Homo sapiens: one gene and its partner. The protein of the gene in region 1 interacts with the protein of each later gene in a pairwise test. Each region holds a gene or a part of one and is shown in the gene's direction. Other genes may lie near its edges.

Region 1 (3,814 bases):
CAGTGTGGGAACATCTATCTAGGGTGTAAATACCAGGAGGTGAGAATCGGGAGGCCATCCTGGAAGCTGGTTATGGTAGCCCCGGATATTTGGAGGTGAGTCTGCCCCACTGTTTCCCCTCCTCAGGTAAGCAAGTTTCCACGGGACAGTCCTCACTTAAAGAAATAAGGCAGCTGATTGGAAGAATGTTTGACAAGCAGTTTCCCAGTGTGCTCCTCGGTACATGCACATTCCTGTTATCTGACAGCTTGCAACCCCAAGCCTCGCTCCCTTCCTCCAGCCTCTCTGTGAGGAACTCTTATCGAGCGCCCATTGGGTACTTCACCATTCCTTACTGAGGTCACCTCGGTATGAGGAAAATCGAGGATGTGGGTTACCCTCACAAGCTGGCTTCAATCCCCTCTCAGTTTTCTGACTTCAGTCCCCATGGAAAGAATCCTGGGCACCTCATCCATTGCTGGTGGCCCTGTGATGAGTCCAGGGAGTGCGGATCCCTTCGGAAGCTGGCTCATGTGCCCAGGAGGCCACTTTCTCTGCACCTGCGGCCTTGCTTCTGGGGTGGGTTGAATTGTGTACACCCAATGCATATGTTGAAGTTTAGATCCCTGGTACCTGTGAATGTGACCTAATTTAGAAAAAAGGGTCTTTGCAGGTGTAATTAGGTAAGATGAGATCATAGTGGAGTAGAGTGAGCCCTCCATCCAAAATGGCTGGTGTCCTTGTAAAAAGAGAAGAGACACAGAGACAGAGGAAAGACAGCCACGTGACAATAGGGGCAGAGACTGCTGTGATGCTAGGAGGAAGCCAGGGAGGACCCTTCCCGGGAGCCTTTGAAAAGAACACGGCCCTGCTGACAGTTTGTTCTTGGACTTCTGGCCTCCAGAACCATGAGATGATCAATTTCTATTGTTTTAAGCCCCCCAGTGCATGGTACTTTCTTACAGCATCCCTGGCAAACTGACACACCATCCAGGGAAATTACATCTGATGGTGTTGTTACTGCTTCACGACTTGGAAGCAGTTTAGCAGGAGGGGAGGTATGGGAATTGAAGCAAATCGTGTCACCTGCACTTGATATTTGCAAGTCAGCCAGTTTCTTTGAGAGAGTAAGAAAGCAATTAGAGAAGAGACTAATATTGATAATAATAACAACAATAAGAATTACTCTGTATATGTGATTAGCCAACCACTTAAGAACTTTACTTGCATTCATTAAAAAATTCCTTACATCAACCTGACGGAAGGAACATAGAAGAACAAACAGTAGATGAGGATATTATTTGACCAAGGACTCTGAGAGGAATGATGCTCGTGTACAAATGTTAGGACTTGAGGGGTCCAAGTCCTGAACCAATGAGCCGACGGAGATCCAGATATCAGCCCTCGGTGCTGGGCGGTGCTGCGCCCCTCAGGCCTCTTGCACAGACAGGGCCCTGCCTGCTGAGCAGTGGGCAGTCTCTCAGAAAGAGGCTCAGGAGGGGGCTGAGCAGTTCCTCCTCCCAGTTACCCCCGTCTTGGAGAGGCTGGGAGTGCACTCACGCAGGGAAACCCAGGGTGGCGGGGCTGCCCCTCGTGGCCACCTGGGGAGGCTTGACTTTTGCTGAGGCTGGGTTGGAGAAGGCACGGGAAACTTGGGGATTGCAGGAACCCCTTTTAATACAAGGAAGCCCAGTCAAGGATTTGTCTATGATCCAATAAGTGTTTTCCTTGTATTCAGTTTAGGGGAGGAATTGACCTGGGCATTGAGGAGCCATTTCCAGGGAGCTGGGGAGCACAGCAGGAACAGAGGGGCCAGCGCCATCTCTCCACGCACCCCCAGGGGTCAGGAGCCAGCACCATCTATCCTCCACACACTCCCGAGGGTCAGGAGCCAGCGCCATCTCTCAGCACAACCCCGTGGGTCAGGAGCCAGCGCCGTCTCTCAATGCACCCCCGGGGGTCATGAGCCAGCGCCATCTTTCCATGCACTCCCGGGGGTCAGGACCCAGTGCCGTCTCTCCATGCACTCCCGGGGGTCAGGGTGGTCACAAGGTGTCCTCTGGGTGGCACTGACTACCACCTGGAGCTGCCTTTCACAGGGAGCCCTCGCCTGCCTGCGGGGGCCTTTGGAGATGTCCACAGAGCTGAGTCTCCAGGAGACGCTGGGGAGGGTGGGTGAGGAGTGCTGACCATGGGCAGCCGCGCCGGGAGGGCCCGCACCCGACTCTGGGAGGGTTGCCTTTTCTTCATCTTCTTCCTTTTCTATTTACCTGGATCGAAATGACTTCAAATCCCACCATTTTTCAGTTTACATCCACGTGTTCTCTGCCTTGATTGTGATCATCGCTGGGGCCTTCGTCATCACCATCATCTACAGGTCGGTCCCTTTGTTCTTTACTGGGAGGGTGGGGAGGAGGGGACTCACCTCTCCTGGCCGCAGCTTCCTGCCTGCCTGGGCTCCTTCGGGCTTGGTGCTGCTGGGGTGACTGAGAACAGCTCTCCGTGAGCCTGGGAAAGGGAACTGGCCAGGCTCACGGAGGGCCCCACTGATTTTCTCCAGAGTGCTTGTTGATGAAAATCATAACCCATGTTTAGTGAGCACCTGTGCTTGTTGATGAAAATCATAACCCATGTTTAGTGAGCACCTGTGCTTGTTGATGAAAATCATAACCCATGTTTAGTGAGCACCTGTGCTTGTTGATGAAAATCATAACCCGTGTTTAGTGAGCACCTGTGCTTGTTGATGAAAATCATAACCCGTGTTTAGTGAGCACCTGTGCTTGTTGATGAAAATCATAACCCGTGTTTAGTGAGCACCTGTGCTTGTTGATGAAAATCATAACCCGTGTTTAGTGAGCACCTGTGCTTGTTGATGAACATCATAACCCGTGTTTAGTGAGCACCTGTGCTTGTTGATGAAAATCATAACCCGTGTTTAGTGAGCACCTGTGCTTGTTGATGAACATCATAACCCGTGTTTAGTGAGCACCTGTGCTTGTTGATGAACATCATAACCCGTGTTTAGTGAGCACCTGTGCTTGTTGATGAAAATCATAACCCGTGTTTAGTGAGCACCTGTGCTTGTTGATGAACATCATAACCCGTGTTTAGTGAGCACCTGTGCTTGTTGATGAACATCATAACCCGTGTTTAGTGAGCACCTGTGCTTGTTGATGAAAATCATAACCCGTGTTTAGTGAGCACCTGTGCTTGTTGATGAAAATCATAACCCGTGTTTAGTGAGCACCTGTGCTTGTTGATGAAAATCATAACCCGTGTTTAGTGAGCACCTGTGCTTGTTGATGAAAATCATAACCCGTGTTTAGTGAGCATCTGTGCTTGTTGATGAAAATCATAACCCGTGTTTAGTGAGCACCTGTGCTTGTTGATGAAAATCATAACCCGTGTTTAGTGAGCACCTGTGCTTGTTGATGAAAATAATAACCCGTGTTTAGTGAGCACCTGTGCTTGTTGATGAAAATCATAACCCGTGTTTAGTGAGCACCTGTGCTTGTTGATGAAAATCATAACCCCTGTTTAGTGAGCACCTGTGCTTGTTGATGAAAATCATAACCCGTGTTTAGTGAGCACCTGTGCTTGTTGATGAAAATCATAACCCGTGTTTAGTGAGCACCTGTGCTTGTTGATGAACATCATAACCCGTGTTTAGTGAGCACCTGTGCTTGTTGATGAACATCATAACCCGTGTTTAGTGAGCACCTGTGCTTGTTGATGAACATCATAACCCGTGTTTAGTGAGCACCTGTGCTTGTTGATGAACATCATAACCCATGTTTAGTGAGCACCTGTGCTTGTTGATGAAAATCATAACCCG
Region 2 (3,814 bases), on another chromosome or scaffold:
GTCAGACATGTGTCATCACACCTGAGCTATATTTTAAAAGATTGCCTTTTAGCTTTTCATAAGTCACTCCCCCACCTCACAGGGATGGGGCAATGCCAGAACTGGTGCAAAGGCACCCTTTCTGTCCCAGTGCTTTCAGAAGTGAGTAGGAAGCCCCACGATGCTGCTGCCAGCAGCGCTCACACTCAGGTCGGCCAGGGACAAGGGCTGAATTTTGCACCTATACTCGCCACACCAGCAGGCGAGGGGCAGAGCATATTGTGCTGCCAGCACAGACTAGCTCTGCACAGCCTTAGCAGTGGCTTGGCTTTGTCCTGGGCCCAGACACATTCTCCAGAGAAGGGGCTGGGAGTAGGGACTGGACCACCTGGGACCTGCCTTGACACAGGACAGAGCCAGCCAGACTTGAACTAGAAGGGGCTGGGGGCTGACTTAAGCCACTCCAGGGCTTCCTCCTGGCCCCTCCAGTGTCAGTGCCGGACATGGTGCTTTGGACCAGCAGGCCTCAGGGACAGGTGCTGATAGGACACCCCAGAGGGTGTACCCTCCTGGTGTTGATGGGTGTGAGGACAGTGGGGGACTGTGCCCCTTGTCCTTGAAGCAGGAACGTTCTGGGGTGTGTGGCCAGCTCCTTCTCACAGCTTTCAGATTGTTCCCAAGGGCATGGAGCATGGAGCAGGTCCCTCGTGGTCTCTCATCAATTTGGAAGGCTCCAAATTGCCTTTGACACCCTGGTGAAAGGTTTGATACCCAGTGAGCTCCTAGCTGGGCATGAGCAGTGTAGCCATTTCCCTTCTTGGGGTCATGAACGTGCCACACTCTGCTTCTCTGCAGCACTTCTCCCCAGGCTCTCTGCCGCTGCTACCTCATTCACAGCTAGTGTTCTATGCCAGGATTGGGTGAATCATTTTAATGTACCCGGGCCCTGGGTCCTGCAAAACATATGTAGGAAATCAAAGGAAAGCCTGTCACCAGCCACAGCACCTCCGCAGCGGGAAGAGAAGGTGCAGGGTCGCACAGCCAGCCTCACTGACCTGCAGTTCCTGGCCACAGCCTCCAGTCCCTGTGAGAATGCAGTGGGCTGGGAGGGGAGGGGCTGGAAGGGCAGGGGGAGGAGACAGAAAGTGAAGGTCCCAGAACCAACTTGGAGGGAGGCCCACGGGGGGCCCGGGAGGTGGGCACTCCAGGAATAGGGCCACGGGGAAGGACAGAAGATGACGTTCCCTGACCTGTCAGTGGAGTGGGGCGGGTGGGGTCTGCATGGCAGCCCCTCCCTCTTCTTCAGACTGAACTACAGGCCTGCATCTGCCGAAGAGGGAGCGGGATCCTTTGGCATTTCATCTTGTGCTGTATGTGTCTTAAACACAAACCTTGCTATTGTTTTCCTCTGAAGAAACAGAGGATATTGAGACTCATTGTTTCAGTGGCGGGCCAGGGAGGGAGAAGCCGGCTGGGAGTGGCCTAAAGACTAAGTGGTTATTCGCCACTTAGTTAACATGGAGGAGGCTCCATGTTAACGCGCCTGTAATCCTGGCACTCTGGGAGGTCAAGGTGAGAGGATCACTTGAGGTCAGGAGTTTGAGATCAGCCTGGGCAACATAGCAAGACCCCATTTCTACAAAAAATGTAAACAATTAGCCAACTATGATGGCTTGCACCCATAGTCCCAGCTACTCAGGAGGCTGGGATGGGAGGATTGCTTGAGCCTGGAGGTCAAGGCTGTAGTGAGCTGTGATCGCATCACTGCCCTCCAGTGTGGGTGACAGAGTGAGAACCTGTCATCAAAACAAAAATCTCATGGCCATTTCCAAAGCTGACCCTAGACACAAGAGGTAACTGTCACACCCATGGGGGCCTGGATCTGGGCCTCAGCCAGCTCATCAAAGGAGCACCCGGCAGCTGTGGGAACGTGGGCAGGTAACTGTGCCTCAGTTTCTGCATCAGTAAAATTTGGACATAGCAGCACCTGCCTCACATAGCTACTGCCCCATAGCTATCAAGTGCTGTTATTATTAGTTGACTAATAATTTAAGCATCTGCTCTGAAACCAACTGGCCGACCTGTGCCGATGGCAGGGTCCGCAAGGCCCGCCCCCATCACCTTTGCCATAGGTGCCCTCTGTTCCATTCTCAGGCAGGTGCTGCATGAGGATTGGGATTGGGCCAGGCTGTGGAGGGCACACTTGACTTTTCCCTGGAGTCACCGAGTCCTGCACAGACACCACCTTCCTGGGGCCTTCCCAGTGGCTCTCCTCTCACCAAGAAGGAACAACTGAGGGCAGAGGTCAGTGTGTCCTCAGCTAAGAGCTTGATGGAGCAGCCAAGGGGTGGAGGACAGTGTGGCAGCCCCAGCCTGCCTTCTGCCCAGGGAGCAGGCTGCTTTCTAAGCCTCTCTGCATCACCCTGCCAGCCTGGTGCCAAGATGGGCAGGCAGAGCTTTGTGGATTCTGAGTGTGACACATAGCTACATCTGCCCGCAGGCGTAGGAATGAATTATCAGCAGGCTCAGATTAAAGCTTTCAAAAGCGATTTGTCATCAGTGTCAGTGTGTCGGCTGTATGCAAGGGCATCAGTTCAGGGAGGGGGCAGCCTCTGGCAAAAACCTGTGCCCTCACCTCCCCCAGCCTCCATCCTGGCCCCCAGCTGCTTGGCAGGAGGGCATAGTTGGATTGAGGGGCCTGGCAGGAAAGGAACCGCCGAGCTTATGGGTCTCAGGACTATTTCTAAAACCAGCCACAGACCTCCTTCATCTCCATCTGTGGTCAGGTTGGGGGCAGCAGTGGGAATGCTTCTTTGTTGGAGGTGACCCTTTAGGCCCGAGCTAACCCATCCCCTCCACCGGGAAGCCCACCCTTCTAGCACCCTTTCCTGGCACTCAGAGCACATCCTGCAGACCTTTGCTTATTGTCTGTCTCGTGCCTACACCCTAAGTCTGCCCACATCCCTGGCACAGATCAAGAACTCTGAAACATTTGTTCTCAGCAAGCATCGGTAGGGAAGGGGCTCGGGTCTCCTCTCTCACCTACCTAACACTGATGAATCATAAGATGAGTCCTTGACCTCAAAGGCGGACAGAGGGTGAAACTGACAAAGGCTGCCAGTCCCCAAGAGACTCTGGGAGTTCCATCTCCCTTGGACCCTCCCAGACCCTGGGCGGGCAGCCTTCTGTCGCCTCTGGCAGGTGTACACCTGTTTTGTTGGTTTGTTCACATTACTAACCTACCTGGTGACTCCCATAAATCCCTTTTGTTTTTCTTGCATTTAAGCCACTCCTGTCTGGTCCAGCATTTCCACGGATTTTGCCTTTTACAGGTGGCTTACCCAGTATTTTCACAGAACCTCTTGGTTTCTGTTTATCCTGCTGGGTAAGGCCAGCAGGTGTAGATGTGGTAGGCAGAATTTTCCATTCAAATGAAGACATGCCTATCAGAAAGCCCCTAGATTTGTGGATCTGAGAGGAGTTTTTGTGCATTCAGGAACTAGTGACCATCCTCTAGCTCATGAGGGAGGTGGGTGTTAAGTCAGCAGTCACTTTGTCCTGCTGGCAGCGTGTGCTATGGGAGAGGCTTCCCTGGGGCTCAAGGGGGGTGAGATTGCAAGCCTGAACAGGGGGCTCTTCCCAGTCCAACTTGCCTTGTTAATATAAACTATGGCCCTCCACTCAGCTCTTAGATTTTTTTTTTTTTTTTTTTTGAGACAGAGTCTTGCTCTGTCGCCCAGGCTGGAGTGCAGTGGCATGATCTCGGCTCACTGCAACCTCTGCCTCCTGGGCTCACGCCATTCTCCTGCCTCAGCCTCCTGAGTAGCTGGGACTA

The links.
Region 2: the proteins of TEX29 (region 1) and MAL interact in binary tests that used the Homo sapiens proteins (3 or more experiments, as listed by UniProt).

The regions. Positions count from the first base shown.
Region 1 is NC_000013.11:111,337,577-111,341,390, forward strand, and holds part of TEX29 (testis-expressed protein 29), read left to right. Parts: intron 1-1,717; coding exon of another isoform or gene 1,718-1,862; intron 1,863-2,286; coding exon 2,287-2,356; intron 2,357-3,814.
Region 2 is NC_000002.12:95,031,996-95,035,809, forward strand, and holds part of MAL (myelin and lymphocyte protein), read left to right. Parts: intron 1-3,814. UniProt on the Homo sapiens protein: May be involved in vesicular trafficking from the Golgi apparatus to the cell membrane. Plays a role in the maintenance of the myelin sheath, and in axon-glia and glia-glia interactions.